Homo sapiens: one gene and its partners. The protein of the gene in region 2 purifies or fractionates together with the protein of the main gene of each other region. This does not show direct contact. Each region holds a gene or a part of one and is shown on either strand. Other genes may lie near its edges. The genes, in order: STK33, EFNA3, SUMF2, KRT6A, POTEE, PKLR and UGGT1.

The links.
Region 1: the proteins of EFNA3 (region 2) and STK33 purify together in Homo sapiens (affinity purification with mass spectrometry, with the first as the bait; one study listed by BioGRID). This does not show direct contact.
Region 3: the proteins of EFNA3 (region 2) and SUMF2 purify together in Homo sapiens (affinity purification with mass spectrometry, with the first as the bait; one study listed by BioGRID). This does not show direct contact.
Region 4: the proteins of EFNA3 (region 2) and KRT6A purify together in Homo sapiens (affinity purification with mass spectrometry, with the first as the bait; one study listed by BioGRID). This does not show direct contact.
Region 5: the proteins of EFNA3 (region 2) and POTEE purify together in Homo sapiens (affinity purification with mass spectrometry, with the first as the bait; one study listed by BioGRID). This does not show direct contact.
Region 6: the proteins of EFNA3 (region 2) and PKLR purify together in Homo sapiens (affinity purification with mass spectrometry, with the first as the bait; one study listed by BioGRID). This does not show direct contact.
Region 7: the proteins of EFNA3 (region 2) and UGGT1 purify together in Homo sapiens (affinity purification with mass spectrometry, with the first as the bait; one study listed by BioGRID). This does not show direct contact.

Annotation. Positions count from the first base shown.
Region 1 is NC_000011.10:8,584,229-8,587,728, forward strand, and holds part of STK33 (serine/threonine-protein kinase 33), read right to left. Parts: intron 1-3,500. UniProt on the Homo sapiens protein: Serine/threonine protein kinase required for spermatid differentiation and male fertility. Promotes sperm flagella assembly during spermatogenesis by mediating phosphorylation of fibrous sheath proteins AKAP3 and AKAP4.
Region 2 is NC_000001.11:155,084,938-155,088,038, reverse strand, and holds the end of EFNA3 (ephrin-A3 precursor), read right to left. Parts: intron 2,949-3,101; coding exon 2,635-2,948; intron 2,163-2,634; coding exon 2,097-2,162; intron 1,912-2,096; coding exon 1,834-1,911; intron 1,627-1,833; coding exon 1,496-1,626; 3' UTR 501-1,495; downstream 1-500. Other genes in the region: EFNA4-EFNA3 protein precursor, read right to left, coding at 1,496-1,626, 1,834-1,911, 2,097-2,162, 2,635-2,948. UniProt on the Homo sapiens protein: Cell surface GPI-bound ligand for Eph receptors, a family of receptor tyrosine kinases which are crucial for migration, repulsion and adhesion during neuronal, vascular and epithelial development.
Region 3 is NC_000007.14:56,074,286-56,077,727, forward strand, and holds part of SUMF2 (inactive C-alpha-formylglycine-generating enzyme 2 isoform b precursor), read left to right. Parts: intron 1-300; coding exon 301-451; intron 452-2,548; coding exon 2,549-2,604; intron 2,605-3,442. UniProt on the Homo sapiens protein: Lacks formylglycine generating activity and is unable to convert newly synthesized inactive sulfatases to their active form. Inhibits the activation of sulfatases by SUMF1.
Region 4 is NC_000012.12:52,486,676-52,490,257, forward strand, and holds the end of KRT6A (keratin, type II cytoskeletal 6A), read right to left. Parts: intron 3,394-3,582; coding exon 3,268-3,393; intron 1,874-3,267; coding exon 1,653-1,873; intron 1,429-1,652; coding exon 1,394-1,428; intron 1,281-1,393; coding exon 1,045-1,280; 3' UTR 501-1,044; downstream 1-500. UniProt on the Homo sapiens protein: Epidermis-specific type I keratin involved in wound healing. Involved in the activation of follicular keratinocytes after wounding, while it does not play a major role in keratinocyte proliferation or migration.
Region 5 is NC_000002.12:131,251,036-131,254,535, reverse strand, and holds part of POTEE (POTE ankyrin domain family member E), read right to left. Parts: intron 2,011-3,500; coding exon 1,966-2,010; intron 1,619-1,965; coding exon 1,437-1,618; intron 1-1,436.
Region 6 is NC_000001.11:155,298,639-155,302,697, forward strand, and holds the start of PKLR (pyruvate kinase PKLR), read right to left. Parts: upstream 2,801-4,059; 5' UTR 2,758-2,800; coding exon 2,658-2,757; intron 2,315-2,657; exon of another isoform or gene 2,250-2,314; coding exon of another isoform or gene 2,243-2,249; intron 1,643-2,242; coding exon 1,460-1,642; intron 1-1,459. UniProt on the Homo sapiens protein: Pyruvate kinase that catalyzes the conversion of phosphoenolpyruvate to pyruvate with the synthesis of ATP, and which plays a key role in glycolysis.
Region 7 is NC_000002.12:128,094,200-128,097,699, reverse strand, and holds part of UGGT1 (UDP-glucose:glycoprotein glucosyltransferase 1 precursor), read right to left. Parts: intron 272-3,500; coding exon 136-271; intron 1-135. UniProt on the Homo sapiens protein: Recognizes glycoproteins with minor folding defects. Reglucosylates single N-glycans near the misfolded part of the protein, thus providing quality control for protein folding in the endoplasmic reticulum.

The DNA of each region.
Region 1 (3,500 bases), on a different chromosome or scaffold from region 2:
TCATACCCTCCCTTCCCACCTCTAACCAATCTTCTTTCAAGGCCGGGTCCTTCAATGATTCATAATGTAGGGAGGATTCCAGAACAAAGTCCTACATAAGTGACCTCTGGAACTTCATACATATTCCTTCATGTCTGAAGTGCCAGCCTGGACTGTGTCTTGAGAGAATGAATACTGTTAACTGGATACATTAAGGATGGCTGCTCAACAAGACTAGAACTCCTGAGCTGCTGGGCCACTCCTCAACTTTCAGTTATTAATAACACAAATAAGGCAGGGCAAGAGAGGCCTGAGAGACACAGCCTTGGAGCAAGCCAATCAGTGAGAGACTATGGGCAATGATCAGAGCAAGACTATGATAATGCCAACGTCAGCAACACCAGAGGATAAACCTCTGGTTTAGGCGCCTTCCTCCTTATGCCTGGCCCTTCTCCAACAGCTCTCTCTCTACTAGGTCTCAGCCATCCAATAGGAAAGGTCTTTTCTGTTACCAAGTGCCAGGGCAAACAGGAGATAGACCCTTTCAGACAAAGCATACAGCCACAGAGGGAGCTCTCCATGAAGTGAAAGGTCATAACCCTAAGGTAAACAGGCAGTTAATCTAGACAGGATGCTATATGAAGACAATGAGGAAGGCAAAATCCCAAAATAGCAGATTCTTAGAGAAAATGCTACAGACAAAAGACAAAGAAAATGATTTTTTTTTTTTTTTTTGAGATGGAGTATCACTGTCCCCCAGGCTGGAGTGCAGTGGTGCGATCTCAGCTGACTGCAACCCCCGCCTCCTGGGTTCAAGTAATTCTCCTGCCTCAGCCTCCCAAAGAGCTGGGATTACACGCATGCACCACCAAGCTCTGCCAATTTTTGTATTTTTATTAGGGACGAGGTTTCACCATGTTGGCCAGGCTGGTCTCAAACTCCTGACTTCAGGTGATCCACCTGCCGTGGCCTTCCAAAATGCTGGGATTACAGGTGTGAGCCACTGCACCCAGCATTTTTTTTTTTTTTTTTTTTGAGACGGAGTCTCACTCTGTCACCCAGGCTGGAGTGCAGTGGCGCAATCTCGGCTCACTACAACCTCTGCCTCCCAGGTTCAAGCAATTCTCCTGCCTCAACCTCCTGAGTAGCTGGGACTACAGGCGCCCACTACTACACCCGGCTAATTTTTGTATTTTTAGTAGAGATGCAGTTTCCCCATGTTGGCCAGGCTGGTCTCGAACTCCTGACTTCAGGTGATCCACCCGCCTCAGCCTCCCAAAGTGCTGGGATTACAGGCATGAGCCACCGCGCCCAGCCAAAAATGATTTTTTTAAGCTAGCGTTAGAAGAAGAGCAAGTCCAAGACAGATGTTAATTAACTACAAATTGTGTTTCTGTCTTATCCAACAAAATGGACCTCAGGCAGGGCTTGGTGGCTCACGCCTGTATTCCAAGCACTTTGGGAGGCTGAGGCAGGCAGATTGCTTGAGCCCAGGAGTTCAAGACCAGCCTCAGCAACATGGCAAAAACCCTGTCTCTACAAAAAATACAAAAATTAAAAATTAGCACCAGGTGCAGTGGCTCACACCTGTAATCCCAGCACTTTGGGAGGCCAAGGCGGGCAGATCACTTGAGGTCAGGAGTTCGAGACCAGCCTGACCAACATGGTAAAACCTCGTCCTACTAAAAATACAAAATTAGCCAGGTGTGGTGGCACACACCTATCATCCCAGCTACTTGGGAGGCTGAGACAGGAGAATCGCTTGAACCTGGGAGGTGGAGTTTGCAGTGAACCAAGATTGCGCCACTGTACTCCAGCCTGGGCAACAAGAGCAAAACTCCATCTCAAAAAACAAAAAATTTAGCCAGGTGTGGCAGTGCATGCTTGTGCTCCCAGCTACTCAGGAGGCTGAGATGGGAGGATGGCTTGAGCCCAGGTGGCAAAGGCTACAGTGAGCCAAGATCGTGCCACTCCACTCTAGCCTGGTCAAGAGAGCCAGATCCTATCTCGGAAAAAAAAAAAAAAAAAAACACCTGACTTCAAATCCCAACCCAACCTGGCATAACAGGGTCTCTGTAAAATGGCATGCTAGCCTGTCCAGTCATTGTCTGCCATTATTCTTCTAGATCTCAACTTCCTCTAAGACTTACATGCTTTTCCACCTCTAGGCCTTTGAGTCTGCTGCTCCTTCTGCCTCAGCTTCCTCTTCCCTTTTGCTCATCCCTCCCTGACTTCCCCCAAGCAGACACAGAAGTGCTCTCCTCCATCTCCCTTCACACCAACCAATGTGTCTGTTATAGCACCTGCCTCAGGGGATTATAATTTATTGGCTTGGGCTGGACACAGTGGCTCACACCTGTAATCCCAGCACTTTGGGAGGCCAAGATGGGTGGATCACTTGAGGTCAGGAGTTTCAGACCAGCCTGGCCAACATGGTGAAACCCCGTCTGTACTAAAACTACAAAAATTAGCTGGGCATGTTGGCAGGCACTTGTAATCCCAGTAACTCGGGAGGCTGAGGCAGCAGAATCACTTGAATCCGGGAGGTGGAGGTTGCAGTGAGCCAAGATCACACCACTGCACTCCAGCCTGGGTGACAGAGCAAGACTCTGTCTAAAAAAAAAAAAAAAAAAAAAAAAAAAATTATTAGCTTGTTTCCCTCCACAACAGATTATGAGCTCGACATGGAGTGTATCTTTTTATCTTTGTATCCCAAAAACCTAGCATAGTATCTGGCTCATAATTTAGTAAGTGAATGACTCAAATTAGGGAAGTGAGGATGAGTGCAGTGGCAACTGCATGCCAGGCTGTGTGTCATGTGTATCTGGCATCTCTCCCTCAGTGATTTGTGACAGACAGAATGGTGTCTGATGCACAGTAGGTGATCAACAAAAACAATAAATTAAGCGAACAAACATGAAAAGAGCTATAACAGATTCAGCAAAGTATTATTTATGACATCAAGTATGAAGCTCCCTTCAAACTCTAAGACTCTATGGAGTTTTTTTAATTGCATTTATACAAATTTATTAGAAAATTTGAAAACATTTTTCAATGGGATGGGAAACTAGTATTTATTGAAGGGCTACATATTTGTTAGGCACTTTACCTATGATATTTGCTTTTCAGAATTCTGGGAAATTGTAATTATAAGCCCCATTTTATAGAAAAAGGAACCAAAGCTAGAAATGCAGGACCAAAATTTGAACCCAGGTGAGCCTGAGCTCACCAATCCTAAGCTTTTCCACACTGCACGCTTGAACCTCTGGAAAGAACACGAGGCACACCTCCCTATCATTCCACTCCAAGAAAAGGAGTTCTGAACAAGCCACGGCTCAACTGGATCACAATTCCAGAGGGAGGAGTTTTCAATGGAAGGTAAAAAAAAAAAAAAAAAAAGATGAAAAGTTCTTTCTTCCCTTGAAGATCATCATCTTTTCTTTGTGGAAAGGTTCACATGGCCCTTCCTGTTTCTCCCATGAGGCTGTAGGGAAAATCTTAAGGCCTCTTCTTGGGAAAGG
Region 2 (3,101 bases):
CTATTATGGCTTGCTGCCCAAGCACACAAGAGAATGTTAAATTTTAGTTATAGGCAAGTGAAAATAAAGATAGTTTTTTTTCTGTCTAGGTTCTCAAATCCCCTGAAATCCATAGACTCCAGTCAAGAACCTCAATTACAGCATGGAAGGGGAAGAAAAGGTGGAAACCATAATTGATGGAGCCTTTAACTCCCTGCGTCATTTAATCCCTACACCAACCCTAAGAGAGAGATACCACAACCAGTTTTTCTGGTGGGATACCTGAGAATCAGAGAGGTTGAGTGATTTGCCCAAAGTCAACCAGGCCCTGCCTGGAGGCCCCTCTTGCTCTTTCCAAGCAGCGCTGCCTTTGTAATGAAGATGAGCCCCAGAACAAGATTTGAACACCTCGTTGTGACTCTTTGGCCCCAGAATTCCCTCTCCTACTCAGGCCCTGTGCCCTGTGAGGTTTAACCAGTGTAACAGAAGGGTGATGGCCCCTTGAAATCACACACACTCAGTTATTTTTATCTCCAGTTTATTTTTTTTAGACTAAGAGCAGAGTATGAAAGTCACAGCCAAAGCACTTGAAAAAGGCCCAGGAGGATAGGTGGGACCACATAGGGTGAGCAGGGCAAGGTCCTGGGAGATGGTTCCCGGCTCAGGGCTGGAAGGGAGGGGGCGTTGTTGTTTTACGGTCTCCAAAAGTGTCTGTGCGTTGCATAGGTCCTGTCTTCACAGAAGACAAAAGAGGGGCCAGGGGGTCCCCCAGGTGTGGGGGGCCTAGCCTGGTGGGGAAGGGGTCTGAAGCTGAAGGGGAAGTCAAGAAAGGTCAGGGGGTTAAAGAGGGAAGGGACTCTGTCTGTCTGTACATTATATATAGAGATATAGAGTCTGTACATGCCTGCCTGGCACCCCAATGCCCACCCCTTGCCATCCTTGTCCACTGCCCGCCCCCCCAGGGGTGTCTACTTGTAAACTTGGTTTCAATCCAAACCACAATCCTGGAAGTGGGAGTGGGGGAGGAGGACGTGCTTATTGCTGTAAACAGGGGAAGGAAGCAGCAGGCAGTGCTGCCCCTTGCCCATCTAGTCCCCTCCCCATGTTCTGCCCCTGGAGGAGAGCAATGGGGGTGCCTCCCACGCTTCGATTTGCTCTCTCTGGGGGCATATGTCTCTCTGGGGGGACAAAGGGAGAGGGCACCAGGAGTCAGGGAAAGGTACCAGGGGCCAGGGAGTCCTGAGCACTGCCCTTTTTGGCCCCCAAGTTTGGTACCAAACATTACCAGAGCCACAAGGCCGCCCGGGACCCATGGCTGTCCCCGTGCTTGGTCCACTACAGTGCCCTACGTGGGGGGAAGGGGTAGAGGGGGCGGACACAGATGTATGGTGCAGGCCCCACTTCTAGCCATGGGAGGAGGGGTCTAGGCCCACTAGGCTTCCCTTGGAGAGGCCAAAGGCTCCCTGCTCCTTCCAAGCCCCGCCCCATCTCTCCCCCCCCAGGGGAGGGGGCAGAGCTAGGAGGCCAAGAACGTCATGAGGAAGAAGGCGATGCCCACGGCCAGGGGCAGGTGTTCCCGTTTGGGGCTGGTCCCGCTGATGCTCTTCTCAAGCTTGGGCACCTGAGGGTTCTCTCCCTCAAAGTCTTCTGTGGACAGAGGAACAGACAGACTGGTGAGGGCTGGGTTGCGCGCCAGGGCAGGGGCACGCGGCAGCAGCAATGGAGCCAGGGACGTGACCACCCACAGGGTAGGAAGTATCAGTGCCCCCAGGGAAGGCATGCGAGGTGAGCAGGCACCGGGGCGGGGGGCTGCGGTTCCAGCAGTGGCCACCAGAGGGCGCTGCGCAGACTCACCCAGCACGTTGATCTTCACATTGGGGCCCATGGTGAACTGGGGGAGAGTGGGGACCGGCTTCTCCCCGGAGTGCGATGCTGCGGGGTGGGGTGCGGGTGGGGAGAGAGGAGGGGAGAGTCAGGGCCAGGATTCCCTCCCCTTGCTACGGCTGGGGAGCAAGCCCCCCTCACCTGTGCCCTCCGCCCCCACCCCCAGGAAGCCAGGGGAGCCCCAAAGCAGGGAGCTGAGGATGGGGGCGCGGCTCGGAGCCTATTCTACTCACTGGAGGCGCAGCAGACGAACACCTTCATCCTCAGACACTTCCAGTGCAGGTTGTGAGTGGGCGTGGCTGGGGAGGAGACCGGGCCTGAGTCACTTTCGCCCAATGTGTGCCTGTGCCCTCCCTCGACGGCTCTATTTCTCACCCCCTCCAAACTGTCCCCGTCGGGCGGTCTCCTTCAGGAGCTCCCCTACCCTTTGGACACGGGTCACTTTAGCTCTGCCGTCGGCCCTAGACGCCCCTTTGGTCCCACCCCTCAAGAAACTGGGATCCCTGATGTTCCAACCCCGGAATGTCCCTCACAGAAACAGCGATTCTCCGCAGCCCAAACTTGGGACTGTCACCAAACTCCTCTCTTGGCCCCACGACCTCGTCTGAGCTGAACCCCTCAGGCGTCCCGTGCCCACGCCTCCTCCCTGGTCTCAGCCGCGAGACCTGGCGCCCGCCGCGCCGGCCCCGCCCCGGAGCCTAGGGGCTCCACCCCCCGGCTGTCACTCAGACTCTCGCGTTCAGACCCGCCCGCCCGGCCGCCGTCACTCACAGATGTAGTAGTACTCGTGGCCGGCGTGGAACTCGTAGCCCAGAGAGAAGGCGCTGTAGCGCTGGAACTTCTCCGAGAACTTGATGGGGCTGTGCGGGGCGTGCGGCCGGTTGCACTCCCAGCGCTTGAAGCCCTGGCTGGCGTTGCAGGTGCGGTAGCCGTTGCGGCTCACCATGTACAGCACGTACTGCTCTGCCCCGCCTCCGGGCCCCGGTCCCGCCCCGGGGCCCACCCCCGAGCTGTTGTAGTGCGGGCAGTAAATATCCAGATAGTCGTTCACGTTCACCTGCACGGTGTAGCCCTCTCGCCGCAGGCTGTGGGGAAGAGGAAGCGGCTCAGAGAGAAGAAACCCCAGAGCAAAGCCGCTTTCCATCTGACCGCTCCGCAGCCCCTCCCCAGGGTCCGCGTAGCCTTCCGACTTTTCCTCCGAGCTTCCTCGCGGCTCAGCCCTGTCTCTGCCCCCGGGG
Region 3 (3,442 bases), on a different chromosome or scaffold from region 2:
TCTCTACCCCTCGTACATCCAGGAACACTGAGTTTCAAAGAAGGATAGGGGAATATCAGGGAAAGCGCTCAGCAGGCCTGTTTCACCTGCCCGAATCCTGTTTCCTGTTACCCATCCATTTCTCCCTTCAGCCTCCTGTAGTCTCTTTTTTCTGACTCCGACCACTGGTCACTCACCCGGCTCTCTTCCAGCTCTCTTGCTCCATCTAGTGGTAAAAGCTGAACGCGGGCGCCCTAAACCTAGCCTGCCTCCGACTTAATGCGCTCCCGGAAGCCTGTCTCACTTAATCCTGGCTGTCAGCCTGCAGGTCCTGGCTCTGGCATCCGAGAGAGACTGGAGCACCCAGTGTTACACGTGAGCTGGAATGACGCCCGTGCCTACTGTGCTTGGCGGGGAAAACGACTGCCCACGGAGGAAGAGTGGGAGTTTGCCGCCCGAGGGGGCTTGAAGGGTATCCAGATGATAAGGCGATTTTCCTTTATTCTTCTCCCCATCCTGCCCAGCATGAGGGGCTTTAAAGGGTGGAAAGGGGCTGGGCGCAGTGGCTTATGCCTGTAATCCCAACACTTTGGGAGGCTGGGGCAGGAGGATCGCTTGAGGCCAGGAGTAAAAGACTAGCCTGGGCAATATAGGGAGACCCTGTCTCTCCGAAAAATACAAAAATGAGCTGGGCCTGGTGGCATGTGCCTGTAGTCCCAGCTACTCAGGAGGCTGAGGTGGGAAGATCCTTTGAGCCTAGGAGTTCAAAGCTGCGGCGAGCTATGATCGCACCACTGCTGTCTGGCCTGAGTGACAGAACAAGACCCTGTCTCAAAAGAAAAAGCGGGGGGATGGGGCAGGAAGGGTCTGTGTTCCCTAGAGCAGTGCTTCTTAAGCTATCTGTGGTGGAGGACCAGTGTTTTTTTTTTTTTTTAATTTCTAGTCCATCTCAGACTGATATAAAATACCATAAAAATTAATAACTGGAAAATTGAAAGAACAGACATAAAATATTTTATTGGAAATTCCACAGACATGTTACATTTCAATAAATATAACTAGAGCAACATAGCATAAGGAAAAAGAATTACCAAGACTACACACTTCTGCCTCTGGGGTACAGAGATTAATGTTAAGAGTCACTGTTTGCGGCCGGGCGCAGTGGCTCACGCCTGTAATCAAAGCACTTTGGGAGGCCGAGGTGGGTGGATCACGAGGTCAGGAGGTTGAGACCATCCTGGCTAACACAGTGAAACCCCGTCTCTACTAAAAATACAAAAAAAAATTAGCTGGGCTTGGTGGCGGGCGCCTGTAGTCCCAGCTACTTGGGAGGCTGAGGCAGGGGAATGGCGTGAACCTGGCAGGTGGAGGTTGCAGTGAGCCGAGATCACGCCACTGCACTCCAGCCTGGGCGACAGAGTAAGACTCCGTCTCAAAAAAAAAAAAAAAGAATCACTGTTTGCTCCTAACTCGGTCATTTGTCATTCTGCAATCCTAATTACACAAAAAGTTAGGACAGCAAAAAGCAACTCCGCACATTAAACCCCTCTACACAATCTTTCAGTGAACACCAGGTACATCAGTGATCAAAGTTTTTTGTTTTTTGTTTTTTGTTTTGAGACAGTCTAGCTCTGTCGCCCAAGGCTGGAGTACAGTGGCACGATCTCAGCTCCCTGCAACCTCCGCCTCCCGGGTTCAAGGGATTCTCCTGCCTCAGCCTCCCTAGTACCTGGGATTACAGGCACCTGCCACCATGCCCGGCTATTTTTTTTTTTTTTTTGAGACAGAGTGTCGCTGTGTCGCCCAGGCTGGAGTATGGTGGCGCGATCGCGGCTCACTGCAAGCTCCGCCTCCCGGGTTCACGCCATTCTCCTGCCTCAGCCTCCCAAGTAGCTGGGACTACAGGCGCCCGCCACCTCGCCCGGCTAATTTTTTGTATTTTTAGTAGAGACGGGGTTTCACCGTGTTAGCCAGGATGATCTCGATCTCCTGACCTCCTGATCCGTCTGCCTTGGCCTCCCAAAGTGCTGGGATTACAGGCGTGAGCCACCATGCCCTGCATAATTTTTGTATTTTTAGTAGAGACAGGATTTCACTGTGTTGGCCAGGCTGGTCTCGAACTCCTGACCTCGTGATCCATCTGCCTCGGTCTCCCAAAGTGCTGGGATTACAAGTGTGAGCCACCGCGACCAGCCAGTGATCGAAGTTTTTAATATGACCTGTGAGGTTGCCTCTGGCTCATTCATTTATGCAATCTAAGTCCAATTTCAAGTTTCTCGATTTCTGTACTTTTCTCAACATGAACTGATAACAGATGCTTTATAAACTGGCTCAGGTCCCAGAACCATGCTTAGGATTACATTGCCCTGGAGCACATGAGGAGGCCAGGGCCCTCTAATGCAGTTCAGCGAGTGGAGAGGATGGGCATGGCAAATAAAAGCAGGTCATTCACTCTTTTTTCTCATCACCCTCTAACTTCCTTTTGATTCCCTCACTCTTTCTGTGTTCTTTTTTCCTTCCCTAATTCTTCACCTCCCCCTCCTCTGCTGCCTCCTTGCTCTCCTCGCAGGTCAAGTTTACCCATGGGGGAACTGGTTCCAGCCAAACCGCACCAACCTGTGGCAGGTAAGACCTACGTTCCTCCTTTCACCAAGCATTGACAGAGACCTGCTGGAGGCTGGGCACTGTGTTGTTAGGCCGCGGCATCCAGAAGGCTTGGGTTCTAATGCAACTGATGACTCATAAGCTGGTAAAGCAAAAGACAATGGGTCATAAGTGCTTTCTTTTTTTTTTTTTTTTTGAGACAGAGTCTCTCTCTGTTGCCCACGCTGGAGTGCAGTGGTGCGATCTTGGCTCACTGCAACCTCCGCCTCCCAGGTTCAAGCGATTCTCCTGCCCCAGTCTCCCAAGTAGTTGGGATTACAGGTGCCTGCCACCATGCCCAGCTAATTTTTTTGTATTTTTAGTAGAGATGGGGTTTTGCCATGTTGGCCAGGCTGGTCTCAAACTCCTGACCTCAGGTGATCCACCCGCCTTGGCCTCCTAAAGTGCTGGGATTACAGGCATGAGCCACCGTGCCCAGCCAGCGTAAGTACTTTCTATTAAAGAGTTGTAGGGCTGGGTGCAGTGGCTCACGCCTGTAATCCCAGCACTTTGGGAGGCCGAGGCGGGTGGATCACCTGAGGTCAGGAGTTCAAGACCAGCCTGGCCAATATGGTGAAACCCTGCTTCTACAAAAAATAAAAGATGAGCTGGGCATGGTGGCATGCACCTGTAATCCCAGCTGCTTGGGGCTTGGGCAGGAGAATCACTTGAACCCAGGAGGCGGAGGTTGCAGTGAGCTACCACTGTACTCTAGCCTTGGCGACAGAACGAGACCCTGCCTCAAAAAAAAAAAAGTGAATAAAAAATAAAACTAAAATAAGCAAATAAAAAAGCACTGTCCTGAGAAGGCCAGCAGGAA
Region 4 (3,582 bases), on a different chromosome or scaffold from region 2:
AGTATAATTACGGTTCAGTGTATGCACATTTTAATTGTGCTTGATACATGTTGTCAGGCAAGTTTCTTGCTTATGAGGGCAATTATAATGATTAATCACATATCTGATTCTTTTGTCAAATAACTTGCTCTAGTTGGCCGAGAATATGTTTCTTAACTGGACAATTAGGCTGAGCCCTGGCGTAAGGGGAAAAGTGGTCCTGGAAACCAAGGCAGAGGGAATGGGATGCTAGTTCCTGGTATGGTCAGTTAAAACGGAGTGGACAATGCTGGTGGACCAGATGCCTCCCACTCCATTTGCCAAAAGTTCATATGGAATTTGATCTAGAAATACACTCTGAATGTCATGATACCAAGCTGAAGTTTGATGAACCTCTCTAAAGGAGGGGAGTTATGTGTATAAAGAATAGATTATCTTTTAAAAACAACTATTCACTTATCAGATAAAAAAGTTTAAGCCCAAAACTTTGGCCCCAAAGCAAGGCAAAGTAAAAGAATATATTGTATTATAAATCTGCTTTATTTAGCAATTGCAAACAGCGAAGAGCACAGAAATCATCACAGAGATACAGGCTTTGTACATCATAGGACTAGTCACTTGTGCTTTCATGGATACTGCCTGGGTGGGGGTTCACAACACTTATAAGTTAGAGAGTTTGAGAGCCAGTGGAAAGTAAGTGGAAGTTGTTCTGAAATAAGCCCCTGGCAATTTTCTGCAATGAAAAGGAGCAGAGGTCATTTTCTTATAATGCTCAGCCTCAGAGATAGAACACTGGAGGCAAGAAATTAATAATTTAGTAACAGTGAAGCTCCAGTGGTGATTACATCATGATGTAAAATCAGAGGTTGATCTGATGGTGAGCAATGGGTGCTCAGATGGTATAGAGAGAGAGAGAAGAAGTGAGGGCACTAAGCATCCATACCCAGCTCTACCTGGGACAGCAGGGGAGACTGGAGGCCAGGAGAGGAAAGGCAACCTGAGGAGAGGGCTCTGCAGCCAGAGAGGGGCCTGAGGACTGTGGGACCGAGAGCTAGCAGACGCACTTTAGTGCTTATAGCTCTTCCTGCTGGAGGAGGAGGTGGTGGTGTACTTGATGGTGGAACTGCCGCCTCCAACAGAGCTGAGGCCACCCCCAATGGCTCTGCCACTGCTGGAACTGAAGCCACCTCCAACGCCAAGACCACTGCCATAGGAGTAGCTGCTTCCTCCACCCAGGCCTAAGCCACTGCCGACACCACTGGCACCGCCATAGCCACTGGAGACGGTGGACTGCACCACAGCTGTGATGGGGAGGGGACAAGGACACAAGAAGCCATGGTGAGCTCATCCTGTCAGCCTGAGCCCAGTCAGAAGAGTGCGAGGGCAGGGGAGGAAGGCAAGCAAAGGTACTTACAGATGTTGACTTGTCCAACGCCTTCGCCATTCAGCCTGTGGAGAGGAACACAGGGAGGGTGAGACCTCAGAGAGCTCTTCCTTCCCTGGACCAGCGTGGGCAGCCTCGGTGGGTGGAAGAGTCCATGGGAAACTGCTCTTTTAGTTTTCTCTCAGGAAGAGCAATTATGGCCATGGGCAGTGCACCTTAAAGTTGTGCTCAGTGCCAGGAACCTTGAAGATGGACTCAGCTGTTGAAGGAGTTCGTGTCAGTTACCCACCTGCACTCCTCACCCTCCAGCAGCTTGCGGTAGGTGGCGATCTCCACGTCCAGGGCCAGCTTGACATTCATCAGCTCCTGGTACTCCTTCAGCAGCCGGGCCAGGTCCTGCTTGGCCTTCTGCAGGGCATCCTCCAGCCCTTCCAGCTTGTTCTTGGCATCCTTGAGGGCCATCTCCCCACGCTGCTCAGCATCAGCAATGGCGGCCTGCAGGTTGGCGCACTGGAAGAGGAAAGGAATAGAAGAAACTTGTCATCCGGTCTTCCAGAGGAGACTAAACCTGGCTGGTTATTTCCTAGTGAAGGGGCCAGGAGCCCAGAATTGATGGTGAATGAGCTCTGACTCTTCCTATCTATTGTTTTTTTTTTTATTTTGCAGTTTTTGTCCAGTCTGGTTCATTTGACAAAAACTCATAACCCTTTTTGTGAACCACTCTGTGGGAGAATGTGGATATTTACTAATGGGAGACACTGCAGTGGACACATACACTGGAAGAAATGTACCTGCTGGTTTGTTTGGAGTGTTGTCTCCACAGTCAAATCAAGACCACTTATGATTACCTCATATAGATGCCACACTAACATACACAAAATTAAGACCATCCTGAAGTGAGGTGATGAGTCTTCACATGAGACTGCTGAGACCTTGCCTTCCTCCCCCTCAGAATCTCTCATCTACTGTTCTTTGTCCTTTGCCCTTCCTCTACTCTCTCTTTCACCTTGAGTCTTGAGCAGATTTGAAACAATGTTCCTTGTGCTTTCTTATCTGCCCTTTTCTTTTTCAATTTGTTCCTTTGCAGTTTCCAAGTCAGTCTTCCTATGGAAATAAATCCAATTCCTCTAGACCAAGCTTGTCCAACCTACAGCCCACAGGCCACATGCAGCCCAGGATGGCTTTAAATGCAGCCCAACACAAATTCTTAAACTTTCTGAATACATTATGAGGGTTTTTTCTTTTTCTTTTTCTTTTTGAGACAGAGTTTTGCTCTGTCACCCAGGCTGGAGTGCAGTGGCGCGGTATCGACTCACTGCAACCTCCACCTCCCAGGCTCAAGCGATTCTCCTGCTTCAGTCTCCTGAGTAGCTGGGACTACAGGCACGCTCCACCATGCCCGGCTAATTTTTATGTATTTTTAATAGAGGCGGCGTTTCACCATGTTGGTCAGGCTTGTCTCTCACTCCTGACCTCATGATCCACTAGCCTCAGCCTCCCAAAGTGCTGGGATTACAGGCATGAGCCACTGGACAAGGCTGTATGTTTTGTTTTGTTTTGTTTTAGCTTATCAGCTATTGTTTGTATTAGTGTATTTTATGTGTGGCCCAAGATAGTTCTTCTTGTTCCACTGTGGTCCAGGGAAGCCAAAATACTGGACACTCCTGCTCTAAACCATGTTTTTGCAGCTCTGAGCATCGTGACTGGTTCTCTCATGTGTTTGTGTCATGCCATAGGTAGGATCTATGTCTCCTAAGCAGCAGGTACCCACTAAGGGTAGGAAATGATAGCCTCCTCTCCCTGGTTTTGATAAGTTCCAGGGGATTTTCCCTAATATAATGGTTGATGGCTGCCTGACGACCTGACAAGGAAATGCTTCTCTCCTCCATTGTCCCTCACCATACCTGCTTCTTGACGTGGTCGATCTCAGATCTCAGCCTCTGGATCATGCGGTTGATCTCAGCAATCTCCTGCTTGGTGTTGCGCAGGTCGTCCCCATGTCTGCCTGCTGTGACCTGCAGCTCCTCGTACTGCAGCCCAGAGGTGGAGAGAGAGACAGTGTCTACGGGTTCTTACCTGGGAGCGATGACTTTCACTTGTGTATCATGCATGTCATGAAGTGGACCTAAAGGCTTCTCCTCAAGAAACTTGAGGAAAAGTTGATATTATGTGGTTGGTGGATACTAAACACTGGAGTCACAGACCATCCTCATTATGGC
Region 5 (3,500 bases), on a different chromosome or scaffold from region 2:
ACACAGCCATGCTTATTCACTTTACAGTCCATAGTGTCAGTTAGCTGGGTGTGATGTTGCACACCCGTGGTCTCAGCTAGTAGAGACTGAGGTCAGAGGATCACTAGAGCCCAGAAAGTCGAGGCTGCAGTCAGCCATGATCACACAACTGCACTCCAGCCTGGGAAACAGAGTGAGACCCTGTCTCAAGAAAATCAATATATGTAGTCCACAAAGCCTAAAATATTTACTAACTAGCTCTTTGCAGAAAAAGCTGGCCAACTCCTGGTTTAGTAGATCAAAGATTCTTTGATGTATTTTAATAAAAGTTTTACCAAATATACTGAAATGTTTATATTAAATATAGATCCCCATGTACAATCGCTTGGCAATATTCAGATTGAGGGTCCAATATTTCAGCACTCAGGCACTGACAACAAAAATTTAGTAACTAGCAATCTTGTTGCTAACAAGGTACAGTGTCAATGTAGCATGTAGCTTCCATTTGCAACACAGCAGATATTACAAGAATTTTAACAAGAACTCTTAAGATGTGTCATCAAACTAAACGCTTTAAATACATTTTAATTGTGAAATAATCAGTATACCCTACATCTAACCTCATTTTTTAAAAATGGTTGCATAATACATTATTTTGGGGATATGGAAATTGAGCTATTTCCTATTGATAAGGAATTAGACTAGCTCCAAATTTTTTACATAATACTATAATAAATGTCCTTATACATAAGTATACATATAACATATCTATACAAATATCCTTTACATGTATTATATATGCTTACTGTTATATATGTGTGTGTGAATATGCTACTCAATTAATGTTCAAAATGTATTTACCAACAGTATATGAAATGTCTTTTTCAATGAAACCATTTCCCCTGCAGCAACACGGATGGAGCTGGAGGCCATTATCCTAAGAAAACTCATGCAGGAACAGAAAATCAAATGCCACATATTCTTACTCATTAGCGGGAACTAAACATGAGAACTCATGGACACAAAGAGGAGAATAACATACACTGGGGCCTACTTGAGGGAGGAGCATGGCAGGAGGGAGACGACCAAAAAACTACCTTTCGAGTATTTTGTTTACTATGTGGCTGGTGAAATAATCTGTACCCCAAGCCTCCATGATACAGTTTACCTATATAATAAACCTGCACACGTACCCCGAAGCTAAAATAAAAGTTCACTGAAAAGAGAAGAAAATGCCTTTTCCCTCACATTTGCCAATACTGGTTATTTTTCAAATAAATTAATGACTGGAAAAAAAACGGTAACTGATTGTTTGCTGATTTTCATTTTTCTGATTAACAGGCAAGGCTCAATATCCTAATAAAAGTATAAAATTTGTTCATCATGAATATTAGCTCAAATTAGGATTAGTTTGGCAGCACAAAGTTACCTCCTGTTCAATGTTGCCATAGGCTTACCTGTGATACTCTTCATTCTCAGTGTCAGGAAATTGCTGGCTTTCAGGTGTTCTGCTCTTCCTTGGAGGAATTAATCCATCATCACCATTGCCAGCAGTGGCACCATTAGTCAGGTTTTCTGGGAATCCGACATGAGTACTTCCGTGCTTCTTCATTTCTTCGATAGCCATAAAATTTTCTAGCTGGAAAATACAGAGAATAAGAAATTATCTACTTTAGGCACATTATCTATTGATAATCAGACTAAAACCAAGAAAGATAAAATAATTGGTCTAAAGCTCCTAAAGTGGCATTACCTAGCATTTTATGGCACCATTCGGGATTATTCCATAATAATGAAAGAATAGCTCTAGGGTTTGCACCTCTTCAAAATTCAATGTACAGAATTCTGAGTTAACTATTTAATTTTTCACTGATGATTTATGCTACTTACATGATAGGATCATGTATGCCTACATTTACTACACTTTGTTAAACAACATAATGTAAAAATCTAATTCAACACAAACGTTTGAATATAAAGGTATACCTCTCTATCACCATCCTTATTTATTTCTGGTTCTTGAGATCTTTTCTGCAGATGTAAAAACAGAAGGTTAATTTGCTTGCTGTATTTCTGTGACATTTCCTCTTTTGGAGTGCATGTTTTTAAAATAATTTTATTCTGAAGTAATCAAGTATGGACAATAAAAATTAGAAAGTAATTAAAATTAAACTGTTAAAATAAATAATAATTAAAATTAAGAATTAACTTTTTAATCTATGTTTAGCTACTGCCACATCACTGGCTTCTAACATGTGAAAAATAATTCACCTTAGACAAAGGGAGAAGAAAAACATGAACCAGCAAACTTAACTTTCTCACTATTTGTTTGGACTAAATTTAATTTGTTATGTGTTAAATCTACCAAAAATGAATCAGCAGATGATTTGTAGTGTTCCAAAATCTTCCTCACTTGAAAAGAGTTTACCTCATGAAACCCTAACTAGTGAGCACCTACAGTGCACTGAAGTGCTTTTTTAAAAGATTCCTAACTGGATTGTAGGCACCCTTTAAACTATTAGGAGCCGAAATCAACACCAAACAGAAAGAAATGCAAATTCTCACATTTTAATTGAAATTATATACTGTCATATGATAGTGTTATGTATCCAGATTATCTGCGTAAGTCCAGTTCTAATATATTCTAATGTGTACTAATGACAGCAGATAAAATTTTTTAATCTCTACTGATTTTCTGCAACTGAAATAAATTAGAATGTTATTGTGTTTGTGCACTAACACCAAAGGTCCCATTCTGCAAGATATGGTTCTTGTAATAGGCAGTTGGGTTGCTTTTATGACCTGGTTCCCTCCCTGAACAGAAACACTGAGGTCAACGAGAGACCACAAGGCAGGATATGTCCTTAACCTTGGTATCAGTGACTGACAATATAAAACTGTGGATTTTCAATCACAGGCCATGATTACTCTTTAACCATGAATCCAGCTCAGGGAATCAGTGTTACATTGTTCATAATTCCTATTGCTTAATAATATGATTCAATCATTGATGTTACTTTCTTTATCATGTTAGGGTGTTGTAAAAATAAAAGAACAAACAAAGTTCTGAAATTTGTTTTTGCCTCTATTCCAAAAGGAGAGATTAGCTATAAGCTAATCAAGAAGGCAGATAAGAATATTTTAAAATAAGAGTATTTTAAATTTTATAGTGGGTTATGTTGAAGTTAAATATCAAATATTAAATTAGAATCTATTGATTCTTCTGTTAATAAGGTTGCTGATTTTATTACAATAAATTTTAAGAATCTATTAAAATTTTTTTTTTTTTTTTTCACATGGAGTCTCGCTCTGTCACCCAGGCTGGAGTGTAGTGGTGGATGTCGGCTCACTGCAAGCTCCCTCTCCTGGGTTCATGCCATTCTCCTGCCTCAGCCTCCCGAGTAGCTGGGACTACAGGCACCCACCACCACGCCCAGCTAAGTTTTTGTATTTTTACTAGAGACGGGGTTTCACCATGTTAGCCAGGATGGTCTCGATCTCCAGACCTCGTGATCCACCTG
Region 6 (4,059 bases), 210 kb from region 2:
TTTAAAAACAAACAAACAAACAAACAGAGTTTCGCTCTTGTTGCCCAAACTGGAGTGCAATGGCGTGATCTTGGCTCACTGCAATCTCTGTCTCCCGGGTTCAAGCGATTCCCCTGCCTCAGCCTCCCGAGTAGCTGGGATTATAGGCACATGCCACCATGCCTGGCTAATTTTTTGTATTTTTAGTAGAAACAGAGTTTCACCACATTAGCCAGGCTGGTCTCGGACCCCTGACCTCAGGTGATCCACCTGCCTCAGCCTCCCAAAGTGCTGGGATTATAGGCAAGAGCCACCATGCCCGGCCAACTTTCACTCCTTTCTTTCTTTCTTTCTTTCTTTCTTTCTTTCTTTCTTTCTTTCTTTCTTTCTTTCTTTCTTTCTTTCTTTCTTTCTTTCTCTTTCTTTCTTTCTTTCCTTCCTTCCTTCCTTCCTTCTTTCTTTTCTTTCTTTCTTTCTTGCCTGCTTGCTTTCTTTCCTTCCTTCCTTCCCTCCCTCCCTCCCTCCTTCCTTCCTTCCTTCTTTCTCTCTCTCTTTCTTTCTTTCTTTCCTTCTTTCTTTCTTTCTCTCTTTCTCTCTAGGGTCTCGTCTGTCACCTAGGCTGGAGTACAGTGGCTCGATCATGACTCACTGCAGCCGTGACCTCCTGGGCTTAAGTGATCCTCCCACCTCAGCCTCCTGAGTAGCTGGGACTACAGGCATGCACCACCACACTCAACTAAGTTTTGTATTTTTTGTAGAGATGGGTTTTGCCATTTACCCAGACTGGTCTCAAACTCCTGGGCTCAAGCGATCTGCCAACCTTGGCCTCCTAAAGTGCTGGGATTACAGGCATGAGCCACTGAGCCCAGCCCACTTTTTTTTTTTTTTTTTTTTTTTTTTTTTTGTGAGATGGAGTTTTTCTCCTGTTGCCCAGGCTGGAATGCAATGGTGTGATCTCGGCTCACCACAGTCTCCGCCTCCTGGGTTCAAGCGATTCTCCTGCCTCAGCCTCCTGAGTAGCTGGGATTGCAGGCACGCACCACCATGCCCGGCTAATTTTGTATTTTTAGTAGAGACGGGGTTTCTCCATGTTGGTCAGGCTAGTCTCGAACTCCTGACCTCAAGTGATCTGCCCACCTGGGCCTCCCAACATGCTGCGATTACAGGCATGAGCCACCATGCCCGGCCTCACTTTCTAACGGAATAAATAATTTACTTATTTTAAATAATTTATTGTGCTTACTATTTATTGTCATACTCAGCTAGACTGTCAGCTCCCCAAGGGTAGGGATTTTTGTCTGTTTTTTTCACTGATCTACTCCCAGGGCCCAAAATCTTGTCTACTATATGCTCAACAAATTTTTGTTAAATGAATGACTGTGTCAAACATGGAGAAGTCTCAAAGGAGACAAAAGATGAAGAAGCACCTCAAGAAATACCAATAGGCCCTGTGTGGCTGCAGGGGGATGGGAGTGCTTACCGATGGTGGCAATGATGCTGGTACTGCGAGCAGCCACGGGCTCGGAGTCAATGTCCAGTAGGCAGAGGTGTTCCAGGAAGGTGTCTGCCATAGCAGCTGGCAGCTGCTGCTGCTGGAAGAAGGCAGTGCCCAGCTCCTGGGTCAGTTGGGCCACACTGGCCCGCCGCAGATACCCCGCTGGCCCTGTGGTAGAAGGGGGCTCAGGGACTGCATGTCACCTGCCCTTCCTCCCCATGCCTTCGTCTCTCAGCATACCCTCTGTTCCTTCCCTTCTTATGAGCTGGGCATCATGCATATATTATTTTATTATGTCACAAGGATCCTATAAAGCAGGTACTGTTAAATGTTCTATAATTATCCAATTTTATGGATAAAGAAACAGAGGCTGAGAAACAGGAAATAAATGGTCCAATATTATACAGCTTCTAAGTATGGATCAGCTAGGATTCAAATCTAGGTCTGACTAACTCTAGCCCAAGTTCTTGACCACTCAGTTATACTGACCCCGCACAACCCAGGACCCCCCGACCTGCAGCTACTGATGACCCTCAACCCCACCACCCCTTGATGTCTAGTCCCCAGCAGCCTCACCCTATGCAGACCCAGAATCACCCAGTTCCTGCTCCAAAGGTCTCTGTTTTCTCCCTTCCAACCCCTGGCTACTGGCTGGCTTCCCCACCCCATCCTCTGAGTCTCCCCAGGCTTCTCAAAGCTGCTACAGACACAGAGGTCCCTGTAGCTTGACCCATCCCAGTTCAGAGGAGCCCCCGATTCCAGCCGCACCTTCCATGCCACTGCACACCTCTCTGGGTCTCCCTCTCTGTGGGTCTGCTCCACACTGTTGGGTTGTCAGAGGCATGAGGCCCAGCTGGGCTGGGGATCAGTTCTGCAGACTGGTTAAAGTGTCACCACTGTCTCCTGTTCCATTGGAAGCCCTGTATGCCAGGGGCCAGAGTCCAGGAACCACGGGAGTGCCCCGTGGCTTACATGCTGTGGCTCTGGCCTGCCTATAGGGCCTGGAAAAGACCCAGGCCAGGGTCCATAATTTAACACACGGGAGGCTCTGAAGAACGTACGTTCCTCTCCAAAACCCACCTAGCCAGTGGCTGATGTGGATCATTTATGCCCTCCACCCTGGCTCCTAGTTTTCACCCTCATTTTCCTCCTATGTTCCATGGCTTCTGTCTCCCCTTCTTACCTCCTGGAGCCCCAATCAGGATGGACTTTGCTAAGTCTCTTTGGGACTTAGAGACCCATGACCGAAGCTGCAGGGATGATATGTTCTCCTGGATCGACATGCTTTCAGTGTGGGCCTGGGGCTGCGGGACCATGGAATGAGAGGGAGAGGATGACAAAACTGCTGGTCTTATCTAAGGGAGACAGAGAAGAGAAAAGGGGCACACCCAGTAGGCCACCCTGTCCCCACAGAATCCCTCCCCCAGAACGGCCTGCTCTCTGCCCTCATCTCCTGGCATTTCCTCTCATCCTTTTTTCCTGATAAATTTTCAATCCATTCATACTATCTGGTCATCCACGTGAATAGATATTTTTTTTTTGGCCAGTCATATGGCCCCATTTTCTTTGTACTTTACTGAAGTTAGCTCTAGTGAATCCAGGGAGCAGGGGCTGTAGGGTGGGGCTGGAGCCTGAAGAAAGACAAAAGGGATCACTGTGATAATATGGTGGGGGGAGGGTTACCCAGTTCTGACCACTTTTTTTCTCTGTCTCAACCAAGAAATGCAGAGTGCCTTCACCACTCTGTAACCTGGCCAGCTGCATGTTTTCGCCTACATGTTTGAACCCAAGATGGTACCTTGAACATTCTCAGACACTGATAAACTTGATTAGGTTGTTGCTGGAAACACTGAAAGATCGACTATTTTGCTAAACTTATAGACTCCTACCCCCAGGGAAATTTTCTTTCCTCCCTCCCTTCCTTCCTTTTTTCTTTTTCTTTTTTCTTTTTTTTCTTTTTTTTTTCACAGAGTCTCACTCTGTCGCCCAGGCTGGAGTGCAGTGGCGCAATCTCAGTTCATTGCAACCTCTGCGATCCTCCTGCCTCAGCCTACCGAGTAGCTGGGATTACAGACGTGCACCACCACACCCAGCTAATTTTGTTTTTCTTTTTTCTTTTCTTTTCTTTTTTTTTTTTTTTTTGAGACTGAGTCTGACTCTGTTGCCCAGGTTGGAGTGCAGTGGCGTGATCTTGGCTCACTGCAACTTCTGCCTCCTGGGTTCAAGCGATTATCCTGTCTCAGCCTCCTGAGTAGCTGGGATTACAGGCATGCACCACCACGCCTGGCTAATTTTTGTATTTTTAGTAGAGACGGGGTTTCACCATGTTGGTCAGGCTGGTCTCGAACTCCTGACCTCAGGTGATCTGCCCGCCACAGCTTCCCAAAGTGCTGGGATTACAGGTGTGAGCCACTGTGCCTGGCCTAATTTTTGTATTTTTAGTAAAGATGGGGTTTCACCATGTTGTCCAGGCTGGTCTCCAACTCCTGGCCTCAAGTATCCACCAGCCTCGGCCTCTCAAACTGGTGGGATTACAGGTGTGAGCCATCATGCCCAGCCTTGTTTTCTTTCTTTTTTTTTTAAAG
Region 7 (3,500 bases), on a different chromosome or scaffold from region 2:
TACAGTATACACTGAAAGAGGCTCTTCATAAATGCATTTGATGATAATCTCACTCCTTAAAAAGCTCCTGAATGTTCACTGTCAGAGCCTATATTTATACTCAAATACACGAAGGGAAAAAAAATGTTCTCTTACCTGGCTTCTAACAACAATGGAGTGGAAAACCATTTTGTTGTAAGAGAGGTTGTAATGGCTTTTGAGTCGGCCTTTACTGAGGAGAACAGCCACAGAACAGTGAGTACAACCAGAACTCCCATTTTATAGCAAACTCCTAAAAGGAAAAAAAGAAAAGAAGTTTTGCTACAAGGAAATTTTTTTTTTTTTTGAGACGCAGTCTCGCCCTGTCGCCCAGGCTGGAGTGCAGTGGTGCAATCTCGGCTCATGCAACCTCTGCCTCCCAGGTTCAAGCGATTCTCCTGCCTCAGCCTCCCCAGTAGCTGGGATTACAGGCACGCACCACCACACCCTGCTAATTTTGTGTATCTTTAGTAGAGACAGGGTTTCACAATGTTGGCCAGGCTGGTCTCAAACTCCTGACCTCGTGATCTGCCCGCCTCAGCCTCCCAAAGTGTTGGGATTACAGGCATGAGCCACCATGCCTGGCCTGCTACAAGGTAATTTTAACCTCATACTTGGAGACACAAAATAACAATCCTAATAATACTTGGAGACACAAAATAACATAAGTTAGCGAAACAGAAATGCTTCTGACATATAATAGCACTTAATATCTAGCTAGTCCAACAGATATTTGCTGAGTGACTGATATGTAACTGAAGGCACTTAGGTTATTACATTCTTTCCTACAAAGGCTCTGCTTCATTTCCCAAGCAATCTACACCATACAGGGGTATAAAAATCAGTTGGTGGCACACCAGGTTGCACACAACCATATTTTATAAAGGATGAAAGCAAATAAAGCTGAGATAGATGAAAATATAAATGATAGGTATTAAGGGTTGAACTGTGTCCCCCAAAAAAGATATGGAAATCCTATCCCCCGGTACCTCGTAATGTCAACTTATTTGTAAATACAGTCTTTACAGAGGTCATCAGTTAAAACAAGGTTATTAGGTGGGCACTAACCCAATGACTGATGTTATAAAGAGGAGAAATCTGGACAGAGAAAGACAGCACAGAGGGAAAACTATGTAGAGACACAGGAGACCACCAGGTGAAGACAGAGGCACACACTAAAATTATACTGTAAGCTAAGGAATGCCTGAAACTACCAGAAGCTGAAGAGTCAAAGAAAGATTCTTCCTCCAAAGATTTCAGCGGGAACGTGGTCCTGTGAAACCCTGAGTAAGGATTTCTAGCACTGTGAGACAGTAAATATCTATTGTTCTAAGCCACCCAGTTTGTGATACTTTGTTGTGGTAGCCCTAGGAAACTAACATAATGGGTCCCAAATGTAAACTCAGACAGGTTCTGAAATAAAGAAATGTAAAATTTTAGTGGCTTCCCAAGCCAACTGTCCCATCTACAAAATGAGGGATCTAGGGTCACTGGCAAAGTGGATGGCCACAGAATGCAGGCCTCTTGACACCCTCCGCAGCCGCTCCAAGCCTGTCAAGATCCTCTCAGACAGCATCCAGACAGTTTCAGAAAAAGGTCTCCAGCTGCAGATTTCTCTGATTTTCATCTCCAAAGTCCACCTAACAGAACCCTAATCGGACCTCCCCTGAGCTCTACCCATTTGAATGAGAACTAAAAGGGGGTGTGAATATGTGGGAAGCACTAAGCTATCCTTGGGCTTCAGAATGTTAGCTCTGGTAAGGCTCACTTCGGTCTCATCCCAGTTCTTTAATATTGGTTACAAAATCTATCACTGAGGGAGGCTGTCCACATTGGGGACTAGTCAATAGCTGCTTTTTATAAAAAGCATCATTTGTGTTAACATCCTGCTTCATAGAACATACAGTATCTCTGAAGAACGATGGTCAAAAGCAAAATAAATTATAACAAATAGAAAAGTGGCTTTCAGAAGCATTTTAAGTTCAGGCACTGCCAGCTTCTTTGGAAACCAAAAAAAATTAATAAATCAGCCAGGCATGGTGGCATGCACCTATGGTCCCAGCTACTTGGGAGGCTAAGGTGGGAAGATAGCTTGGGCCTAGGAGGTCCATGCTGCATCTGGGCAACAGAGCGGGACAGGAGGAGTTACGGGACAGGAGGAGAGCAGGACAGGAGGAGAGTGGGGGAGGAGGAGGAGGAAGAGGAGGAGGAGGAAGAGGAAAGAAAGAAGAAAGAAGGAGGAAGAGAAGGAGGAGGGGAAGGGGAAGGTAAAGGGGAAGGGGAAGGAGAAGGGGAAGGGGAAGGGGAAGAGGAAGAAGAAGAGGAAGGAGAAGAAGAAGAACATCCCACTTATAAATAAAAACACTCAGAAGTGTTTTTCAAAATCAACGTTTGTAAAAACTGCTATAGAGGCTGCAGAAATGAAAGAATACACACACAAAAATGAAACCTACTGAAATTAGAGATAACCAAACTAGATTTTACACAATGAAACCTGATAGCAGTGATTCCTGGCTGGTTGAGTGAAGAGGATATAGGCCTTTTCTGGAATCTAGTAAAGTTACTGACATTTCCCACAGAGGAGCAAACAAGGACCCAAATTTTATGTACAACTTAAGAATTCTCTTGGGACTGGCCCAGCGCAGTGGCTCACGCCTGTAATCCCAGCACTTTAGGAGGCTGAGGTGGGTGGATCACCTGAGGTCAGGAGTTCAAGACCAGTCTGTCCAATGTGGTGAAACCCCGTCTCTACTAAAAATACAAAAATTAGCCAGGCATAGTGGCAGGTGCCTGTAATCCCAGCTACTCAGGAGGCTGAGGCAGGAGAATCGCTTGAACCCGGGAGGTGGAGGTTTCAGTAAGTCGAGATCGCACCACTGCACTCCAGCCTGGGCGACAGAGAGAGACTCCGTCTCAAAAAAAAAAAAAAAAAAAAAAAAAAAAAAGCATTCTCTTAGGACTAACCATAGACACCCTTTCCCACAGGCCCACAGACTGCAGCCTCAGAAACCTGCTCTACAGGACACAATAGACACGGTTTGTAAAAAAAGGGAACCTTTTAGCATCAGGGCAGCTGTGATCAATTCCTGAGTTTGCTACGTACTAGCAGTTTAACCACATATATGTTACCTAACTTCCCAGGCCCTTAGTCTCGAAGACTATCAAAGTAGGAATAATAGTATCTGCCTCACAGGGTCAATGTGAAAATGAAGAGGCAATAAAAAAATCACTTTGTAAAGTGCCAAGTACTATACCAGAATTGATTGTTGTAGTAAAACATTTTATCGTAAGAAAAAACTATCTTCTAAATTACAGAATAGTACATCATCGTTATTAAATAGCCTCAAAAATACACATTGGAAATATATCCTCTGTGGCTGAGAGAAAAAATTCTCCCCAAAAGTTACAGAGTTTTTCTTTTTTTTTTAATCTGGCCTGAGTCAATGAGTTTATAAACTGGAGACAGCGCATCATATGAACTG